2 separate regions of the Homo sapiens genome follow, and region 2 is linked to region 1. The links come from fine-mapping of genetic effects on plasma protein levels. A gene starts in region 1. The other region holds a variant in brackets. All regions are shown on one strand. Distances are from middle to middle. Region 1 holds the start of GHR (growth hormone receptor). Region 2 overlaps GHR (growth hormone receptor).

Evidence for each region. A credible set is the group of variants that fine-mapping cannot tell apart. PIP is the chance, under the fine-mapping model, that this variant and not a neighbour inherited with it causes the effect. Sun 2018 read protein levels with aptamers (SomaScan).
Region 2: its variant is the best candidate, but not a certain one, in a credible set for the plasma level of the GHR protein (Sun 2018, PIP 0.62).

The regions. Positions count from the first base shown.
Region 1 is chr5:42,408,915-42,424,288 of GRCh38, forward strand. GHR (growth hormone receptor) reads left to right here and starts at 14,525. Exons shown (of 10, transcript NM_000163.5): 1 at 14,525-15,041. RefSeq lists promoters at 13,808-14,893, 14,317-14,889, 14,499-14,599, 14,797-15,374, 15,218-15,374, cis regulatory regions at 13,808-14,316, 14,654-14,694 and an enhancer at 14,521-14,670.
Region 2 is chr5:42,680,824-42,688,823 of GRCh38, forward strand. The region is part of intron 3 of GHR (growth hormone receptor); the gene reads left to right. Among named protein-coding and RNA genes, the nearest start is that of CCDC152, 72 kb to the right of the region's middle. The variant T/C (reference allele first, on the strand shown) is at 6,704.

The DNA.
Region 1 (15,374 bases):
GGTAGAAGTCCTTGTTCTCTCATATACCCAACCCCCTTACACTTTCCAAAATTTTCACTACCTACATTTTCCTAGAAAAAATGTTTCATGTAATTTTTTCCAAATTAAAAAATAAATATTCATAAATAATGTGTGTAGCTATATGTGTGCAAAATATATAAAGTTAGATAAAATAAGAAAGAACTAAACAGACATTTTTGAAAGAAAAGATCCAAAAAATCAGTAAACATGAAAAGGCATTCAAGTTCCTAAGAAATCAGGGGAATGCCAGTTTAAACCATGATGTAGTATGCTCCACAGGCACCAGAATGGCTAAAACAAAAAAAGATGAAAAATACCAAGTGTTGGTAAGAATGTAAGAAATGAAATCTTTCATACACTGCTGGCAGAAGCACAAATTCATACAACCACTTTTGAACATCGTTTGGATATATATATATACTCAAGAAAAATGTGGACAGTCTCTAAAAGACATACAACAGAATGTCCATAGGAAAACTATTTGTAGTAACCAAAAATTGAAATCTACCCAAATATCCATAGATAGTAGTATTTTGCTATCAAGTTGTTGCTGTCTTCTGCATATATGTTTCCTACATATTTCACATTGTATTACTTTTCTTTTAGCTTTATTTTCAATAATGAGCATCAGATAGCCCGAAAAATGAAATTCAACTTTTTAAACAAGGATTTGATAAGTTCTTAATACACTGAATTCTATACTGGGCTCCTCAATTGAAAACCAACCCTGAACCTCTTTTCCAAGCTGCTCTTAGACGAATATCTGCCCCCTTCCAGCCCTGTTCCCACTAAAGAAATGTACAGAGGTCTCCAGGAGATCATACTGTAAATACTGCTCACTGGCCCATGCTAGAGAGTTCCCGAGCTGTCTTTCCTCCAGCAATGTCCCCATTCACCAGACAAGGAAACTTTGGATGAATGAGATATGCCTGGCCATGAGCTGTGGTTCCTCTTCAGACCATTCTTTGTGATATCTCAGACTTTGGAGTTCCTAGCTGAAGTGTCCTGGAGTTCCAAGGTGGGGGAGGGAGAGGTTGGCTAGAGCTTGGACATGTATGCTTCTATACACACATATATAGGAGACCGTTGCTGAGCATAGTGGGAGCCAAGAGTGGGGAAAGTGGCAACGACTGGGGACTAAGAATCAAACTGAGGACCAGATATCCCTGCATGACTAACTTCTGGTGCAAAATTCTGAGAGGTCTGAGAAATCTAAATTCAAACCTGTCCTTTCAGGTCATTATGAAGGTATATTTCTGAAGGTAAGAGGATAGAACACATTGTAGCCAACAATTCATTAGACTGACAATACTTTAAAATATTAATATTTAGCCTTATGGACTTATACTATGCGGGCTTCATTTGTCCTCTGGCTGTGGCTCCCACAAATGTTAGAAGTGGGCCTACATGTGATGGAACTAAAATGCAATAGACTTTCCTTATGTCCTTCCCTGCTACCACTACCATTAGTTTGGTTCCTAGATATTGAAAGATAATTTTAAAGATTTTGCCAAAGACAGATGCTTGTAGGGTGGTGGCTTGAAAACACAAATTGAGCAAGATGGTAGCATGGCTACATGAAAAGGTATGGAGTTGTCCACAGAATGCTCTTGTTTCACTGGACTATATCAATCTCATTGTGTGACTTGGTCTAGTTGATTTTCTTCTCCAAGCCACTTTCTTACTAAAAAAGAAAGGACAATCACACCTTTTTCACAGGACTACTGTGAAAAAATCCTTACATAATTTATGTGATTTGTGCTTGGAATATTGCACAGTGTTAAAAAATATGGTAAACACATTTTAGGAAGCAAATAAAATTTGGACAATCTGATTTATTTTTGTCTACAACAGCTGAAACCTATTTTACTTAGCTTTTAAGTTCTTTTATAGAGGTATCACTGTTTTTTATGTGGCTAGACATCTCAGCCTTACACCTGGTTCAGAAAGTGCTCCAGAGGGCCAGTGGCTGGGAGAAAAGTGCTATTACCTTGCTAGTCATCTTGTTCCTCAATATAGCCCTTACCCTACCTAAGGAGTTTTTCCAGCCAGAAATTCTCCAGTAGTTCATACCCTCACTTGACCTTTTCTGGCTTCACTGGGTAGACATTGAGTAGGCAGAGCTGGGTTTTTTTCAAGCTCAAAAGGGTTCAGTGTTATTTCTCTTGGGCATCCATGATGCCCTCAGTCAAGTCTGATTAGCAAGTTACATTGAGAGTTCATTTAGTAATTGGAAATGATCTGTGTGCCTTTTATGAAGGAAAGCGGTTATGAGAAACTTTCTCATACCTGGTCAGATTCCTTTCTCATTTATATCCTTTTTTTTGCTTTTATATTTTCACTTCTTTTAAAAATTAAGAAGATAGAGGTAAAGAAAAGAATCCTACAGTATGTGAAGATAGGCAGTAGGAAAGGATTGAAATGGAAAATGAAAGAAGGGATAGACATCCCTTTATCACACTGAGGTGCCTGAATTTACTTCCTGGGAGTGTAGGCTGAATAAGTAGCATAGGTTGTTTGGAACTGGGATCCCACCACATCTAACAGACTCCAGGGCTTCTGTCATTTCATTACTCTATGGCACCTAGCTGAAAGCTTATGGTCTTCCTCTATCTTGTGGTGACCACAATGGAATTGAATTTGATACCGGGAACAGCAATTTATGAAGGAGTTTGATAAACTGGAGCACACACCAAGGAGGTAGCCCAGGATGGTGTAGGGTCAGCAAGTCTCATTGACTTCTCATGTCAATGAGAAGTAGTGAAAACACCTGTGTGTGTTTGGTCTGGAGAAGAGGTAACTGGCAGTATGACATGTAAGTGTGTCTCATGAAACAAACAAATTTAAATTGCTAATTTTTTCCCTATGAGAGATAGAATCAGGTACAAATAATAGAATAGCAAATTCTTAGTAACATATTTTTAACAAATAATGCAGTCATGCTGCCCAGTGAGGGAATTAGTGGGTTACTCATCAGTACAATTATTCAGAAAGCAGAAATCATCTCAATGTTTCTAATTGTTTCATCATCTTTGATAGATGATTGTCTATCAGATGGGTTTTTTAAACAGGCTTTTGCATTTGGTGAGAAGGTAAAGAAAATAATGTCAATTTTTAAAAATCTCCACACTTAAATTATTTAAAGGGGAATGTTTATTCATGAGTCTCTTTTGAGACCTGTTTGATTTTGTTCCTCTCTACCAGGTGGCTGTACATAATCTGGCATATCCCTGGCCTGTAACTTTCCTGTGGGTGAATCCACTAAAGAGCATAAAGGAGATCAGTTTTATTTATTCCTTTGAGTTTTTATAAACTCTGAATTGAAATACCTATTTTTTGAAATTCATAAAATAAATGGTAATTTTTGTTCGTTTGTTTTTGCTTTTTTAATTATACTTTAAGTTCTAGGGTACATGTGCACAACGTGCAGGTTTGTTACATAGGTATACATGTACCATGTTGGTTTGCTGCACCCATTAACTCATCATTTACATTAGGTATTTCTCCTAATGCTATCCCTCCCCCATGCCCCTACCCCATGACAGGCACCAGTGTGTGATGTTCCCCACCCTGTGTCCAAGTGTTCTCATTGTTCAATTCCCACCTATGAGTGAGAATATGTGGTGTTTGGTTTTCTGTCATTGCTATAGTTTGCTCAGAATGGTTTCCAGCTTCATCCATGTTCCTTCAAAGGACATGAATTCATCCATTTTTATGGCTGCATAGTATTCCATGTTGTAGATGTGCCACATTTTCTTAATCCAGTCTATCACTGATGGACATTTGGACTGGTTCCAAGTCTTTGCTACTGTGAACAGTGCCGCAGTAAACATACGTGTGCATGTGTCTTTATAGCAGCATGATTTATAATCCTTTGGGTATATACCCAGTAATGGGATGGCTGGGTCAAATGGTATTTCTAGTTCTAGATCCTTGAGGAATCACCACACTGTCTTCCACAACAGTTGAACTAGTTTACACTCCCACCAACAGTATAACAGTGTTCCTATTTCTCTACATCCTCTCCAGCATCTGTTGTTTCGTGACTTTTTAATGATCACCATTCTAACTGGCGTGAGATGGTACCTCACTGTGGTTTTGATTTGTGTTTCTCTGATAACCAGTGGTGATGAGCATTTTTTCATGTGTCTGTTGGCTGCATAAATGTCTTCTTTTGAAAAGTGTCTGTTCTTATACTTTGCCCACTTTTTGATGGGGTTGTTTCATTTTTTCTTGTAAATTTGTTTAAGTTCTTTGTAGATTCTGGATATTAGCCCTTTGTCAGATGGGTAGATTGCAAAATATTTCTCCCATTCATGTAGGTTGCCTAGCTAACTCTGATGGTAGTTTCTTTTGCTGTGCAAAAACTGTTTAGCTTAATTAGATCCCATTTGCTAATTTTGGCTTTTGTTGACATTGCTTTTGGTGTTTTAGTCATGAAGTCCTTGCCCATGCCTATGTCCTGAATGGTATTGCCTAGGTTTTCTTGTAGGGTTTTTATGGTTTTAGGTCTAACATTTAACTCTTTAATCCATCTTGATTTAATTTTTGTATAAGGTGTAAGAAAGGGATCCAGTTTCAGCTTTCTATATATGGCTAGCCAGTTTTCCCAGCACCATTTACTAAATAGGGAATCCTTTCCCCATTGCTTGTTTTTCACAGGTTTGTCAAAGATCAGATGGTTGTAGAAGTGTGGTGTTATTTCTGAGGGCTCTGCTCTGTTCCATTGGTCTATACACCTGTTTTGGTACCAATACCATGCTGTTTTGGTTACTGTAGCCTTGTAGTATAGTTTGAAGTCAGGTAATGTGATGGCTCCAGCTTTGTTCTTTTTGCTTAGGATTGTCTTGGCAATGAGGGCTCTTTTTTGGTTCCATATGAACTTTAAAGTAGTTTTTTCCAGTTCTATGAAGAAAGTCATTGGTAGCTCGATGGGGATGGCATTAAATCTATAAATTACCTTGGGCAGTATGGCCATTTTCATGATATTGATTCTTCCTATCCATGGGCATGGAATGTTCTTCCATTTGTTTGTGTCCTCTTTTATTTCATTGAGCAGCGGTTTGTAGTTCTCCTTGAAGAGGTCCTTCACATCCCTTGTAAGTTGGATTCCTAGGTGTTTTATTCTCTTTGTAGTAATTGTGAATGGGAGTTCACTCATGATTTGGCTCTCTGTTTGTCTGTTATTGTTGTGTAGGAATGCTTGTGATTTTTGCACATTGATTTTATATCCTGAGGCTTTGCTGAAGTTGCTTATCAGCTTAAGGAGATTTTGGGCTGAGATGATGGGGTTTTCTAAATATACAATCATGTCATCTGCAAATGGGGACAATTTGACTTCCTCATTTCCTAACTGAATACCCTTTATTTCTTTCTCTTGCCTGATTGCCCTGGCCAGAACTTCCAACGCTATGTTGAATAGGAGTGGTGAGAGAGGGCATCCTTGTCTTGTGCCAGTTTTCAAAGGGAATGCTTCCAGTTTTTGCCCATTCTTTATGATGTTGGCTGTGGTCTTGTCACAAATAGCTCTTATTATTTTGAGATACCTTCCATCAATACCTAGTTTATTGAGAGTTTTTAGCATGAAGGGCTGTTCAATTTTGTCAAAGGCCTTTTCTGCATCTATTGAGATAATCATGTGGTTTTTGTAGTTGGTTCTGTTTATATGCTAGATTATGTTTATTGATTTGCATATATTGAACCAGCCTTGCATCCCAGGGATGAAGCCAACTTGATCTTGGTGAATAAGCTTTTTGATGTGCTGCTGGATTCAGTTTGCCAGTATTTTATTGAGGATTGTTGCATCGATGTTCATCAGGGAGAATGGTCTAAAATTGTCTTTTTTTGTTGTGTCTCTGCCAGGATTTGGTATCAGGATGATGCTGGCCTCATAAAATGAGTTAGGGAGGATTCCTTCTTTTTCTATTGATTGGAATAATTTCAGAAGGAATGGTATCAGCTCCTCTTTGTACCTCTGGTAGAAATCGGCTGTGAATCTATCTGGTCCTGGACTTTTTTTGGTTGTTGGGCTCTTAATTATTGCCTCCATTTCAGAGCCTGTTATTGGTTTATTCAGGGATTCAGCTTCTTCCTGGTTTAGTCTTGGGAGTGTGTATGTGCACAGGAATTTATGCATTTCTTCTAGATTTTCTAGTGTATTTGCATAGAGGAGTTTATAGTATTCTCTGATGTTAGTCTGTATTTCTGTGGGATCAGTGGTGATATCCCCTTTATCATTTTTTATTGTGTCTATTTGATTCTTCTCTCTTTTCTTCTTTATTATTCTTGCTAGCAGTCTATCAATTTTGTTATCTTTTCAAAAGAACCAGCTCCTGGAGTCATTGATTTTTTGAAGAGTTTTTTGTGTCTCTGTCTCCTTCAGTTCTGCTGTGATCTTAGTTATTTCTTGCTTTCTGCTAGCTTTTGAATTTGTTTGCTCTTGCTTCTCTAGTTCTTTTAATTGTGATGTTAGGGTATTGATTTTAGATCTTTCCTGCTTTCTCTTGTGGGCATTCAGTGCTTTAAATTTCCCTCTACACACTGCTTTAAATGTGTCCTAGAGATTCTGGTACATTGTGTCTTTGTTCTCATTGATTTCAAAGAACATCTTTATTTCTGCCTTCATTTTATTATTTACCCAGTAGTCATTCAGGGGCAGGTTGTTCCGTTCCCAGGTAGTTGTGCAGTTTTGACTGAGTTTCTTAATCCTGAGTTCTAATTTGATTGCTCTGTGGTCTGAGAAACAGTTTGTTGTTATTTTTGTTCTTTTACATTCGCTGACAAGTGCTTTACTTCCAACTATGTAGTTAATTTTGGAATAAGTGTGATGTGGTGCTGAGAAGAATGTATATTCTGTTGATTTGGGGTGGAGAATTCTGTAGATGCCTATTAGGTCTGCTTGGTACAGAGCTGAGTTCAATTCCTGGACATTCTTGTTAACCTTCTATCTTGTTGATCTGTCTAATATTGACCGTGGGATGTTAAAGTCTGCCATTATTATTGTGTGGGAGTCTAAGTCTCTTCGTAGGTCTCTAGGGACTTGCTTTATGAATCTGGGTGCTCCTGTATTGGGTGCATATATATTTAGGATAGTTAGCTCTTCTTGTTGAATTGATCCCTTTACCATTATGTAATGGCCTTCTTTGTCTCTTTTGATCTTTGTTGGTTTAATGTCTGTTTTATCAGAAACTAGGATTGCAACCCCTGCCTTTTTTTGTTTTCCATTTGCTTGGTAGATCTTCCTCCATCCCTTTATTTTGAGTCTATGTGAGCCTCTGCATGTGAGATGGGTCTCCTGAATGCAGCACACTGTTGGGTCTTGACTCTTTATCCAATTTGCCAGTCTATGTCTTTTAATTAGGGCATCTAGCCCATTTACATTTAAGGTTAATATTGTTATGTGTGAACTTGATCCCATCATTATGATGTTAGCTGGTTATTTTGCCCGTTACTTGATGCAGTTTATTCTTCACGTTGATGGTCTTTACAATTTGGCATGTTTTTGCAGTGGCTGGTATCAGTTTTTCCTTTCCATGTTTAGTGCTTCCTTCAGGAGCTCTTGTAAGACAGGCCTGGTGGTGGGTAAATCTCTCAGCCTTTGCTTGTCTGTAAAGGATTTTATTTCTCCTTCATTTATGAAGCTTAGTTTGGCTGGATATGAGATTCTGGTTTGAAAATTCTTTTCCTTAAGAATGTTGAATGTTGGCCCCCCTCTCTTCTGGCTTGTAGAGAGGGATCTGTAAAGATCTCTTGTAGAGAGGGATCTGTAAAGATCTCTTGTAGAGAGGGATCTGTAAAGATCTCTTGTAGAGAGGGATCTGTAGAGATCTCTTTCTGCCAAGAGATCCACTGTTAGTCTGATGGGCTTCCCTTTGTGGGTGACCCTACTTTTCTCTTTGGCTGCCCTTAACATTTTTTCCTTCATTTCAACCTTGGTGAATCTGATGATTATGTGTCTTGGGGTTGCTCTTCTTGAGGATTATCTTTGTGGTGTTCTCTGTATTTCCTGAATTTGAATGTTGGCCTGCCTTGCTAGGTTGGGGAAGTTCTCCTGGATAATATCCTGAAGAGTGTTTTCCAATTTGGCTCCATTCTCCCCATCAGTTTCAGGTACACCAATAAGACGTAGGTTTGGTCTTTTCACATAGTCCCATATTTCTTGGAGGCTTTGTTCATTTCTTTTTACTCTTTTTTCTCTAAACTTCTCTTCTCACTTCATTTCATTAATTTGATCTTCAATCACTGAAACCTTTTCTTCCACTTGATCAAATTGGCTACTGAAACTTATGCATGCATCATATAGTTCTCATGCGATGTTTTTCAGCTCCATGAGGTCATTTAAGGTCTTCTTTACACTGTTTATTCTAGTTAGCCATTCGTCTCATCTGTTTTCAAGGTTTTTAGTTTCCTCATGATGGGTTCAAACATCGTCCTTTAGCTCGGAGAAGTTTGTTATTACTGACCTTCTGAAGCCTACTTCTGTCAACTCATCAAAGTCATTCTCCATCCAGCTTTGTTCTGTTGCTGGCAAGGAGCTGCAATCCTTTGGAGGAGAAGAGGCGCTCGGGTTTTTAGAATTTTCAGCTTCTCTGCTCTGGTTTCTCCCCATCTTTGTGGTTTTATCTACCTTTGGTCTTTGATGTTGGTGACTACAGATGGGGTTTTGGTGTGGATGTGCTTTTTGTTGATGTTGATGCTATTCCTTTCTTTTTGTTAGTTTTTCTTCTACCAGTCAGGTCCCTCAGCTGCAGGTCTGTTGGAATTTGCTGGAGGTCTACTCCAGAAACTCTTTGCCTGGGTATCACCAGCAGAGGCTGCAGAACAGCAAATATTGCTGCCTGATCCTTCCTCTGGAAGCTTCATCCCAGAGGGGCACCTGCCTGTATGAGGTGTCTGTCAGCCCCTACTGGGAGGTGTCTCCCAGTTAGGCTACACGGGGGTCAGGGACCCACTTGAGGAGGCAGTCTGTCCTTTCTCAGAGTTCAAACACCATGCTGGGAGAACCACTGCTCTCTTCAGAGCTGTCAGACAGGGCCATTTAAGTCTGCAGAAGTTTCTGCTGCCTTTTGTTCAGCTATGCCCTGCCCCCAGAGTTGGAGTCTACAGAGGCAAGCAGGCCTCGTTGAGCTGCGGTGGGCTCCACCCAGTTCAAGCTTCCCAGCCACTTTCTTTACCTACTCAAGCCTCAGCAATGGCTGACGTCTCTCCTCCAGCCAGGCTACCACCTCGTAGTTTGATGTTGGACTGCTGCACTAGCAGTGAGCAAGGCTCTGTGGGTGTGGGACCTGCTGAGCCAGGCACAGGAAGGAACTTCCTCGTCTGCTGGTTGTGAAAACTGAGGGAAAAGTGAAGTATTTGGGCAGAAGTGTACCATTCCTCCAGGTACAGACTGTCACTGCTTCCCTTGGCTAAGAAAGGGAAATTCCCCAACCCCTTGCTCTTCCCGGGTGAAGCGACGCCCCACCCTGCTTCAGCTTATTCTCTCTGGGCTGCACCCACTGTCCAACCAGTCCCAATGAGATGAACCAGGTACCTCAGTTGGAAATGCAGAAATCACCCGTCTTCTGCATCAGTCACGCTGGGAGCTGCTGATGAGAGCTGTTCCTATTTGGCCATCTTAGGTTGTTTTCCAATAAATGGCAATTTTAAGCTTTCACCTGGCTCTGGGACCTCCTCATAAATTTTGGCTAAGAATACCCAGATCATGAAATAACATTTTCCCTGTTACCTTCCAATATAGGGGGAAAGCAATAAATACTTCCCTAAGTCATTTTTTTCTCTTCATGATTCCCTTGCCATCCTCACCCAAGGCAGTTGTGGGATGGAACTAGGGGACTAAGATAAAGAGAGTACCCTAGTCAAAGAGCTCTCACAGTGTGCTCACAAGCATCACATGCTCAATTCCATGATATGCTGAGTCCTGGGCAAGGAAGGAATTCTCAGCACTCTTGTACCTGCTACCTGACATTCTTGAGCCTCTTACCCTGCTATGGTTTTCTTTAATCAGCACTTCAGTGATTTACTTATTATGTTTATTGTTCATTGTCTCTCCTAACTAGAATGCAAGCCCCATGAGGGCAGCATCTTTGTAGATATGTGGTATAAATTTTGTTCCCTGATGCATGCTAAGTTTTTAGAACGAAGTCTGTCATAGTGTAGGCTCACCAACATTTGTATGAATGAAAGAACATGGTGAATGGGAATTCAGTGTTAGTTTAAAAAAAATTCATTAAAGGGATAATATTTTATTAGAATCTTATTAATTTTACCAGTAAATATTGTATTAATCAGGGAGATATATATATATATATATGTCATATTCATGAGATATATATATATATATATATGTCATATTCATGAGATATATATACAGAGACTTATTTTGAGAAATTTGCTCACATAATTGTGAAAACTGAAAAGTCAAAAATCTACAGGGTAAATTGGTTACAGATTTAGGGAATAGTTGATATGCAGTTTGAATCCAAAGGCTGCCTGCTGACAGAATTTTCTCTTCTTTGGGATAGGTCAGTTTTTTTCTCTTAATGCCTTCAACTGATCGATTGAGGCCCACCTACATTATGTAGAGCAATATGATTTACTCAAAGTCTATTGATTTAAATGTTAATCTTACCATAAAAATGCCTTTGCCAAAAAAATCTAAAATAATATTTGACCAAATATCTGGGTACCATGGTCTAGCAAAATTGACACATAAAATTAACCATCTCAATGTGTCAACTTTGCTAGGGCATGGTACCCGGACATTTGGTCAAATATTATTCAAATAAATTTAGAATTTATCACAAATGTTTGATATCATAATTTGATTTACAAATATCAATCTAATACTTTATTTTACAGCTGAATGATCTCAGAGAGCAACCCCTTCCTTCTATAGGCCAAGAAATGGAGTCATTGTGAGATTAGTAACTAATTTACCCAAAATCACAGAGGACCCACACAGGATCCCAAGGCTCCTGACTAACAATCCTATGTTCTTCAACTACAAATGCTATAAAACAAAACAGCTATAAAATGCTACTTTAAGTGTTTTGGCCTCTTTTGTTTTGTTTTGAGAAGAAGCTTTGGCATTTTATAGTACAACAGAGTGACTAAAGCCATGCTCTAACCTCAGATAACTGTAGATTTAGGAAGTTTATACTGTGGTGTTTTATGGTTTGGGGAGATGGCGATCTGACCTAGATATCTGCACTTGAATATATATAATCAGAATTATTTTCTAATTGTTTCTATTGTCTTCAAGGCAGTTTATATTTTTTGCTAAGCCCTACTGGGGATGTATAAAAGACTGGGGAAGGGTGGGCCATAATAAGGTAAGGCCATAATAAGGTAAAATAGGTTGGACAAGATAAGTTAGCCAATATCTGAGTAAAGACTTCAAGGAACTGTAGGAGGAAGCAAATGAATATTTGTGGAAGTGTGTTTAAATCAGAGAGAAAAGCCAGCAAAAAGCCTTCAAGTTAGGAGTCTGCCTGGCCTGCTTAAGAAACAGCAGGGAGGCCGGTGTGCTGGGAGCAGAATGGATGACCCAGTGATGGGGAAATTCATGGGAGATGAGGTGTGGGGCAAAGGTACATAGCTCACGTAGGGTCTCATGGGCCATTTTGAATTTTATTCTGATTTGAATGGGGAACCATTGGAGGGTTTTGAGCTGAGGAATGACATGATATTAATTTTAAAAGGAATGACTATGGCAACTGAATTTATACTTTGGGTTGTTGTTGGTGTTGGTTGGGGATTAGGGGTGGGGTTTGTCAAAGCAAGCAGACCAGTTGAGTTGAGAGACTACTGCAGTAATCTGAGAAATTCTGGTGGTTCAGACCAGGTGTCTCTGGACCTCTCCAAGAAAATAGACAGAGTTTTGAATGTGGAATGTGATTGGCAGAGAAGAAGTAAGGATGATTTCAAAGGTTTGTGGCCTGGGTAACTGGCAGGAAGTAGTTGCCATCTACTGAGATGGAAATGTCACCCACTGTGATTGGAGTATGTTTAAGGAGAAAGAACCAGAGTTCAGATGTGGACATGTCAAGTTTCAGAGGTCTGTTAGACATCCAAATGGAGATACCCAGTTGTTAGCCTGGAGCTCTGTGGAGAGATCTGGGTTAGAGATATAAATCCAAGAGATACAACTTTTCATTCAATTTGATTATTTATTGGACGCTTTATAAACTCTGTAAATACTGGGCACTAACCTAGACATTGCAGGTACAGATATTAAGAATATATAGTTTCTCCCTCAGAAATCTCTTAATTAATGAGAAAAGCAGACATGTCAACAAAACTGCAATATTTAATAAAAGAAGATATAAAGGCCTATAAAGGTGCTGATACAGGGAGAATTAATTAATTCCACCCTGGGGAATAGTCAGGAAGACCTTCAGAGAGAAAGTAAACAATTGATTGGAACTTTAAGATTAAGAAGGATTTCTCTGGGTGGACAAAGTAGGATCTTCCAAGCAGAGTGGAAACCATGAGCAAATGCAGTTTCATTCTTCAGAAGGTAAATGTGCTCTGGCATGCCTTAACTTATAACAAATTAATCAACTCAATACCTGCTACATTTTCCCTCACAATTTGGAATATATAAAGAGGCACATACTACTATGGACCAATACCTGGTCATATATGAGATTGAAGGACCTTTACTTACGAGGCTTAAAAATAAAGACTGCCCTTCATGTCAGTTGCAGGTTTATATCTAGTTCTATAGTATTAACTGAGGTGTCTTTTCCTATGTTTTCTGTGCATGATGACTTTTTAAAAATCAAAGACAGAGCAGCAGCCAGAGTAGTCTAGTTTCATGGCACACAGAATGGAGGATATTGCTGAACCCAGATTTAAAAAAAAAAAGAAGTCAATTCTTATTTTTTTAAGTATGGCCCTGAGCTCATCTCAGAGCATAAACAATAGAATTTAGAATATCTTTTATGACTCCGTCTGGCACCTCCTAAACTAGATCAAGATTCTCTAGCTCAGGGAAGAAGGGCAAAGGATGAGAAGGCACAGAGAGGATATAAACAGAGAGGTTGGTAGTGCCAGGCTCTGAAGAAGGTCCAACTTGGAAGGTCATTTCAGACAGGCGTGGAGTCAGCATTTGAGGCCTGTCTGGTCTCTACTCCTGCCAGGACTACCCTGTCAGCCAGCTTGGCAGGTATGGACCACCCAGCAGGAGTTTTTCTTGACTGTGCCCTAATCTTTTACTTTCCCAAGTTTCTCTATATGGGTACCTCCCCTTTTAAAAGCTCCAGACACAGCCAAGCACCACTATTGCTCCAGCAAAGTATGAAGCCCCAGAAATCAATGGTTTGGGGAAGAGTCTTAGGGGAACTAAATGCCTCCTTATTTTTAGATGCCATAGAACAAGAGCAGTTCAGGATCAATAACCATCCCACCCCATGATAAAACACGCCCCTTCCAGAATCTTTCCTTTTTCGTTCATTCTAGGTGTCTGTCTGGAACAGCTGGGGTATTTGAGCCACAGCTGAGCTTCTGAAAGCATTCTAAGGAACAGTTTTTCACTTATCTGATTCCTTTGAAAATAGGGGTATCTTATGTGATATCTGCTATCCCAGAGTCTTTGGTCCTCTGTTCCTTCTCAAGTCTTGGCTCCCGTGTACTACTTCAAAGCCCTATAGATATTTTATTCTAAAGAAAAGAAACTTGGTTCCTTTAAGTTGTTTAAACATTTCTTTCTGGGTATAAACTTGGGTTTGTGTCTGGGAGCTCTGTTAAAAAAAAAAAGTCTTTAGTAAGCCAAAGCTGTTAGAAGCTTATAAGTAAGTGACATTACAATTGACCGTCAGTAAATAGTGGAAAGATTGCATGACTAGCTACTCCTTCAGATCTGAGACAACCTGGAGCTAGATTTTTGTACTCTCTACTCAGAAAAGCATATAGTGACTTGGGGTTTGATGCTGTACAAAAATGACATGCTTATGCACAACTTTAACTTTCTGCAACACTTTTACAACTTCTTGTGAATGAAGTAGGCAGGGCTCGCATTTGACAGATGAGCTATGTCCAGCGTGAGGCAGAGTTAAAACCCTTTTCCTGGCTCAGGAACTTCAGGCTGGGGCCTGTGTCTGCTCTCCCTGCATCCCTGTCCTCTAGCAGATACCTCTCTGCTAACATGCTGAGTGTCCTTGGTAAATTACTCATTCTCTCTGTCTCCGTCTTCTAACCTCCACAATAAAGTCCTTCGTAGTTTTAACTATCTTTTCACTGTGCCCCAGTGAGCAGGAGTTTGGAACTTGATTGTTGATGGAAAGGCAATATTTGGATGGCTAAACACGCTTTCCAAGGTATCTCGCTGATCTTCCTCTCATTCCTGGAGATAGCTAACCTTTTTGTAAGTGTTTCTTTGAGTCTGTGGACTGCACTTAACGCTCTTGTAGGTCCTGCTTTCATTTGGAACGGGCAGGCGGAGAGGAAGGAAGTGTATTGCAACTACCAATATTTTCCTCTAGGAGGAGCCGCGCAGCTCAGTTGAGAGTGACACGCACCAACTCCAGCTCCTCGCCGGGAAGACTTCATCCCAGCAACTCGGAATGCTTGGCCCGGGCGGCACTCGGCCTCTCCGCAGCAGTTCTCGAACTGGCCTCCTTGAACGTCCGCTTCGCCTTCGCTTCTGCAACCTGGATCTGGGGGACTGCGGGCCAGGCGCGGCGTGACCCCTGGTGAACGGTGGCCGCCTTTTCCCACCCCTGCCCTCCCATCCTCCCTTCCCGTTTCACCCCGCCCCCTCTCTCCTCCCCAAGCCTGACAGCCCGCGAGCTGCCAAGCAGGGCGCAGCCATGGGAAGAGGAGGAGGGCTAGGGAGCGGCGGCGGCGGCGGCAGCGGCAGCAGCAGCTGCTACAGTGGCGGTGGCGGCGGCGGCTGCTGCTGAGCCCGGGCGGCGGCGGGGACCCCGGGCTGGGGCCACGCGGGCCGGAGGCCCCGGCACCATTGGCCCCAGCGCAGACGCGAACCCGCGCTCTCTGATCAGAGGCGAAGCTCGGAGGTACTGGAGTGGGGCTCCGGGAGTCTGGCTTTATTTTCCTCCTGTTGTGCCAGGGGGCCTGAGGGTGAACCCTGGGACTCTAGTTGTTTATGAAAACGGGAGGATCTGTCTTATATATTTACACGGATAATTTTTTATTCCGGATGACTTGGCTGTGCTCCCCTCCTCCTTGCGAAGAAGTTGTTTTCTGCTGGTGGGTTGTTGTAACCCAATCTAGTGTGTGTGTGTGTGTGTGTGTGTGTGTGTGTGTGTGTGTGTGTGTGTCTGGAAGTTGGTGAGGGCGGCAGGGAGTTGCGGGCGACAGACGAACCATCACACTCTGGCGTCTGCTCT
Region 2 (8,000 bases), 270 kb after region 1:
TGAATGCTTAATGTCTTTCTATTATTATTATTTTTTTTTATTATACTTTGTTCTGGCATGCATGTGCACAACGTGCAGATTTGTTACATAGGCATACATGTGCCATGTTGGTTTGCTGCACCCATTAAAAATTAATTCAAGATGGATTAAAGACTTAAATGTTAGGCCTAAAACCATAAAAACCCTAGAAGAAAACCTAGGCAATACCATTCAGGAAATAGGCATGGGCAAAGACTTCATGACTAAAACACCAAAAACAATGGCAACAAAAGCCAAAATTGGCAAATGGGATCTAATTAAACTAAAGAGCTTCTGCACAGCAAAAGAAACTACCAGCAGAGTGAACAGGCAACCTACAGAATGGGAGAAAATTTTTGCAATCCGCCCATCTGACAAAGGGCTAATATCCAGAATCTACAAAGAACTTCAATAAATTTACAAGAAAAAAAAAAAACCATCAAAAAGTGGGCAAAGGATATAAACAGACACTTCTCAAAAGAAGACATTTATGCAGCCAACAGACACATGAAAAAATGCTCATCATCACTGGTCATCAGAGAAATGCAAATCAAAACCACAATGAGATACCATTTCACACCAGTTAGAATGGCGATCGTTAAAAAGTCAGGAAACAACAGATGCTGGAGAGGATGTGGAGAAATAGGAACGCTTTTACACTGTTGGTGGGAGTGTAAATTAGTTCAACCATTGTGGAAGACAGTGTGGCAATTCCTCAAGGATCTAGAACTAGAAATACCATATGACCCAGTGATCCCATTACTGGGTATATACCCAAAGGATTATAAATCATGCTACTATAAATACACATGCGGCCGGGCGTGGTGGCTCATGCCTGTAATCCCAGCACTTTGGGAGGCTGAGGCAGGCAGATCACAAGTTCAGGAGATCGAGACCATCCTGGCTAACATGGTGAAACCCCATCTCTACTAAAAATACAAAAAATTAGGCAGGCGCAGTGGCGGGCGCCTGTAGTCCCAGCTACTCGGGAGGCTGAGGCAGGAGAATGGCATGAACCCGGGAGGCGGAGCTTGCAGTGAGCCGAGATAGCGCCACTGCAGTCCAGCCTGGGCAAAAGGGCAAGACTCCGTCTCAAAAAAAAAAAAAAAAAAAAAGACATATGCACACGTACGTTTACTGCAGCACTATTCACAATAGCAAAGACTTGGAACCAACCCAAATGTCCATCAGTGATAGACTGGATAAAGAAAGTGTGGCACATATACACCATGGAATACTATGCAGCCATAAAAAAGGATGAGTTCACGTCCTTTGCAGGGACATGGATGAAGCTGGAAACCATCATTCTCAGCAAACGATCACAAGAGCAGAAAACCAAACACCACATGTGTGTTCCAACTTAACTCATTGTTCTTAGTGATAATTCACTTAGGGGCAAAGTTAGGCTCTCTTGTTAATTGCAACATTCCTTTCAGAGGTGCTATAAATGGATGTTGAACTATACTATTTTTAGATTTAATCTTTAAAAATCATAAGAAAGCAAGAAATATTACTAGTTCAGAAATGATTTTCTGTTCCTGGCTAATCAGAGAAGACCTAAGAGTCTATAGTAGTCATTTGTTGTCTTCGTAGTAAAAGTAAGATTCTAATAGGATTTTTAGACATAGTGAGAAAGGTGTTCATTTTAAGATTATGGTAGTTCCTCTCAGATTTAGAAAGCCTTAAGATGACACTAAGGAGTTGGACTTTAGGAATGCTGAGTGTCTTCAGCCACAGCGGCACAATGGTACTAGATGTGACAGGATGTGATTAAGGAGAAACTAAACGGCCAGGCACAATATAGTTCTTCTTGCCTCCAAAAGAGGAGTCACCCACTTTCTCACACTCACTGTGATACATTCCATTTGCTAAGAAAAGTGGCTTGTGTCATTCTTGAGCACTACTTTTAAGTTCTGATATATTAAATTCATTTACTCTGTATTAATAGCATTCAAATATTTAGTAAAGTTAATATACCTCTCACACTTTTTCCAAAGTAACCCACCAGCTGTGTCCTGTGCTTCAAGCTATCTTATAAGACTGCAATCAAAGTGTCAGCCAGGGCTGTGGTCTCATCTGAAGGCTGGATAGGGAAAGATTGGTTCCCATGCTTATTTACATTGTTGTTGGCAGGATTCAGTTCCTCAAAGGTTTTTTTTATTTTTATATATTTTTTTTTGAGATGGAGTCTTGCTCCATCACCAGACTGGAGTGCAGTGGCGCAATCTTGGCTCACTGCAAACTCCGCTTCCCAGGTTCAAGCAATTCTCCTGCCTCAGCCTCCCAGGTAGCTGGGATTACAGGTGCATGCCACCATGCCCAGCTAATTTTTCTATTTTTAGTAGAGATGGGATTTCACCATGTTGGTCAGGCTGGTCTCGATCTCGTGACCTCATGATCCACCTACCTCAGCCTCCCAAAGTGCTGGGATTACAGGCATGAGCCACCGCGCCCAGCCAGTTCCTCAAGGGTTTTTATACTGAGGGCCTCTACTTCTTGCTGAGTGTTGGCCAGAGGCCATGCTTAGTTCTCTGCTGTATGGTTCTCACCACACAGCAACGTACTTCATCAAAACCAGCAAAAGGGTGAGTCTGCTAGTTAAAAAGAAGTCTCAATCTTTTGTAACCTAATCATAGAACTGCCATCCACTCCATGCTGCCATATTCTTCTGATTAGAAGCAAGTTACTCAAGGGAAGGAAATACATAAGGCTGTGAATGAGAGAAGACAGGAATCATTGGAGGCTACTTTAGGGGCTGTCTGCCACAGCACTTAACAGCACATACCCAGCCATAAAATTTAAAAAAGCCGGAAAGAGAGAAGGAGGGTGCAGGGTAAAATAAAGAAAAGAGGAAGGTGGAAGGGAAGAAAGGAAGGGAAAGAAAGACATTTAAAAAGACAAGAACAAAACAGCTCTGCTGCACAACATCTGTATCGGAGTTCCATGTGCAGACACACACGTCATCACATCAGCACCACACCCATAAATTTCCTATTTCTTATTTACAATGAGAAGGTAATAAGGACTTTCTATGCATCTGGAGTTAAAAGGAAACAATAAATCTAAGAATACTAAGTTTAAGTAATCAAAATGTGTTTCAGATTAGTTATTTTTTCTTTTTAAGTTTTTTTTTTTGTTTCAGCTGACAAAGTTTTTTATTTCTTTCTGTTTCAAGTTTTGAAGTTGAGTTTATTATTCTTGCTATTATGTAACAGGCATATTTTACAGAGAATATAGGAACCTGATTGACATTTGTATTTGGTGTTCTATTGTTGTTTCAATTCAAATGCCAAAATTATGTTTTTGTTGTGTACGTTATTGTTCATAATTATATATGCCTCTTAATTGTAAAAGCGAAGCTGTAAAATTGTAAAGTACTTTGTGTCTCATCTATTCCAGGCATTCTACTAAGGAAATCAAGACCAAATGGCTTGGGAAGGTCAACGTTAAATAGTGTCAGAGCCAGAACTAGAGTACACATCTCTCAATTTCTAATCTAGTGCATTTCCTTTTCTTATTTCTGTGCAAACGAACAGTTAGAATGTGAAATAGTCTCCTCAGATATACCAGCATTAAAACAGTTGTGGTTTAAATATTTAGTTTTAATAATTACTAACTTTGTAGAAGGACCTAAAATAGTGTTTGTTTTCAGTGCTTCAACTAATAGTAAAAAGGAATATTTTCAGTGCTTTACTGTATGAGAGGTGCTTGCCTAACGAAATACACATCTTTTTCACTGTACTCATTTGTAACAGATAATGTGGGCTCGTACACCTCAGTGTTCTGAGAGGGGTTGGTAAACACTGACCACATAGAGAGAGCTGCCCATCTGCCCTCAGTACCAAGGCACATCCCATCCATGCCCTAAAACTCTTGTAAATTTCTCCATTCATACAGGAAAATGAGTATTTCTTACAACAATATGACCGTGGAATTTGATTACAAAAACACTCCTGCTATCCCCAACCTGTGCTCCCAGGGCTAAAGACATATTTGCAACTCAGGATTTTCTGAAGATTCACTTGTTTGTACTATTGAGGGCAACAGTTGTTCTCAAACAAGGATGCAGTTCCTTTCTTCTTACCCTGCTTATTTTTCTTTTTATTATTATTATTATTATACTTTAAGTTCTGGGGTACATGTGCAGAACGTGCAGGTTTGTTACATAGGTATACATGTGCCATGGTGGTTTGCTGCACCCACCAACCCGTCATCTATATTAGGTATTTCTCCTAATGTTATCCCTCCCCCAGCCCCACAGCCCTCAACAGGCCCCAGTGTGTAAAGTTCCCCTCCCTGTGTATGTGTGTTCTCATTGTTCAACTCCCACTTATAAGTGAGAACATGTGGTGTTTGGTTTTCTGTTCTTGTGTTAGTTTGCTGAGGATGATGGTTTGCAGCTTCATCCATGTCCCTGCAAAGAACATGAACTCATCCTTTTTTATGGCTGAGTAGTATTCCATGGTGCATATATGCAACATTTTCTTTAACCAGTCTATCACTGATGGGCATTTGGGTTGGTTCCAAGTCCTTGCTATTGTGAACAGTGCTGCAATAAACATACATGTGCAAGTGTCTTTATAGTAGAATGATTTATAATCCTTTGGGTATATACCCAGTGATGGGATTGCTGGGTCAAATGGTATTTCTAGTTCTAGATCCTTGAGGAATTGCCACACTGTCTTCCACAATGGTTGAACTAATTTACACTCCCACCAACAGTGTAAAAGCGTTCCTATTTCTCCACATCCTCTCCAGCATCTGTTTTTTCCTGACTTTTTAATGATCGCCATTCTAACTGGTGTGAAATGGTATCTCATTGTGGTTTTGATTTGCATTTCTCTGATGACCGGTGATGACGAGCATTTTTTCATGTGTCTGTTGGCTGCATAAATGTCTTCTTTTGAGAAGTGTCTGTTTATATCCTTTGCCCACTTTTTGATGGGGTTGTTTTTTTTCTTGTAAATTTATTGAAGTTCTTTGTAGATTCTGGATATTAGCCCTTTGTCAGATGGGCAGATTGCAAAAATATTCCCCCATTCTGTAGGTTGCCTGTTCACTCTGCTGGTAGTTTCTTTTGCTGTGCAGAAGCTCTTTAGTTTAATTAGATCCCATTTGTCAATTTTGGCTTTTGTTGCTATTGCTTTTGGTGTCTTAGTCATGAAGTCTTTGCTCATGCCTATTTCCTGAATGGTATTGCCTAGGTTTTCTTCTAGGGTTTTTATGGTTTTGGGTCTTACGTTTAAGTCTTTAATCCATCTTGAGTTAATTTTTGTATAAGATGAAAGGAAGGGATCCAGCTTCAGCTTTCTGCGTATGGCTAGCCAGTTTTCCCAACACCATTTATTAAACAGGGAATCCTTTCCCCATTGCTTGTTTTTGTCAGGTTTGTCAAAGATCAAATGGTTGTGGATGTGTGGTGTTATTTCTGAGGCCTCTGTTCTGTTCCATTGGTCTATATATCTTATTTGGTACCAGTACCATGCTGTCTTTGTTACTGTAGCCTTGTAGTATGAAGTCAGAGACACAATAAAAAAAGAAAATTTTAGACCAATATCCCTGATGAACACTGATGCAAAAATCCTCAATAAAATACTGGCAAACCTAATCCAGCAGCACATCAAAAAGCTTATCCACCCCGATCAAGTCGGCTTCATCCCTGGAATGCAAGGCTGGTTCAACATACACAAATCAATAAACGTAATCCATCACAGAAACAGAACCAGTGACAAAACCACATGATTATCTCAATAGATGCAGAAAAAGCCTTCGACAAAATTCAACAGCCTTTCATGCTAAAAACTCTCAATTAACTAGGTATTCATGGAATGTATCTCAAAATAATAAGAGCTATTTTTGACAAACCCACAGCCAATATCATACTGAATGGGCAAAAGCTAGAAGCATTCCCTTTGAAAACCGGCATAAGAAAAGAATGCCCTCTCTCACCATTCCTTTTCAACATATTATTCAAAACTCTGGCGAGGGCAGTCAGGCAAGAGAAAGAAATAAAGGGTATTCAATTAGGAAAAGAGGAAATTCAATTGTCTCTGTTTGCAGATGACATGATTGTATATTTAGAAAACCCCATCGTCTCAGCCCAAAATCTCCTTAAGCTGATAAGCAACTTCAGCAAAGTCTCAGGATACGAAATCAAAGTGCAAAAATCACAAGCATTCCTATACACCAGTAACAGACAGAGAGCCAAATCACGAGCAAACTCCCATTCACAATTGCTACAAAGAGAATAAAATACCTAGGAATACAACTTACAAAGGATGTGAAGGACCTCTTCAAGGAGAACTACAAACCACTGCTCAAGGAAATAAGAGAGGACACAAACAAATGGAAAAACATCCTCATGGATAGGAAGAATCAATATCATGAAAATGGCCATATTGCCCAAAGTAATTTATAGATTCAATGCTATCCCCATCAAACTACCATTGACTTTCTTCACAGAATTGGAAAAAAACTACTTTAGATTTCATATGGAACCAAAAATGAGCCTGCATAGCCAAGATAATCGTAAGCAAAAAGAACAAAGCTGAAGGCATCACGCTACCTGACCCAGCTTATTTTTCTACATAGGATCCCCACATCCCTGCTTTTGCTAGAATGGAAACTAGACAAGGACCAACTTTTATCAACTTGTTCATTTCTCTATTCCTAGAACACAGCCTGG[T/C]ACAAAATTTGCGTTTAATAATGTTTGTTGAATGAATTTGAATGATGGATTTGTTTAGAAGGTTTATAACATCCCATGCCTTATGAGTTTGTTGCCAGAGGAAAAAAGAAGCCTGTTTTTGGTTCATAACATCAGGTATGTAACCTGGAATTTGGAATCATGAGTTTTTATGCATTTGCTTCATATTATTTATTTTTAAGAGATCTTTCAAAGTATTGACAAAGATACTTTAAGATTGAGAGCCTCCCTGATAACCCAGGAATGAGAGTTTTAGATTAAGTTTACAATATGATTGAAGGCTAATCATATAAGGAGAAAAAAATAAGAAAAAGAAGAGAAATTTGAAAAGAAATCTCCAAAATGGCCATGGACATCAGAACACTGAGAATTCATACACAAAAATGTGTTTTGCTTCATACCTGTCTGTTGCACATCTATACATTTCATAGATGCAGAGGAATTTTGGCTAAATTCCTAACACATGAGAGGCATTCTGCACTTACTTCTCAAATTAGAATTAACACATGAGTATGTATAAGTTGTTTAGAGTGGGCATCTATTTAATGAGTTTACTGGCTGAATCTTTTAAAAGAATGCAAACATAAGTGCCTTTTATCAAAAATCAATGAAAAGATAAAAGGCCCTGTAGTGCATGCTGTGGTTCCCACACTACATCCCCCACATCCACCTGATGTCATCACAACTGTCTATGGTGTCCATTTGCCACTATGCACCCTGCCGGGCAGACTCAGGTGCCTGCCTCGGCAAAGACCCTCAGCTCATGTGCAGGTACAGCCTAGAAGTGCATGGGGGTGAACATCTCTGAGGCACCCTTCAACCAGTGAGTACTGGGAGCGGTAGATAAATATCCTAGCCTCTCATCTTTCTACACAACAGTGGTGGTGCATATTCTACACAGCTTCTCAAAGGAGCCTCAGAGGGATTGGGCCCCATTAGCCACTGTGATAACCAGCTCAGAACACACACATATTAGTTGTTCTCCCTTTCCTTCCCACCCTCCCCATTCCCTGACTGCTAGATCCAGAAGTCATCTTCCAGATGAACTACCTATATCCAAATCCTAATCTCTAGCTCTGGTTTCTTAAACAGGTCCTATGAAATGCTTGAAATAAAAGGCAAAATGGTTTGTGTCTAGAATCAAAGGCTGACAATGGCAAGCAACAGGCACTAAAACTATGACCCAGGAAAAATGCTTTTCTGGAAGACATCGGCATTACCTCCTAGACACGGAATACACTGGCTTCATCCCAGTAGTTTCTTCACACACTTTAGATAC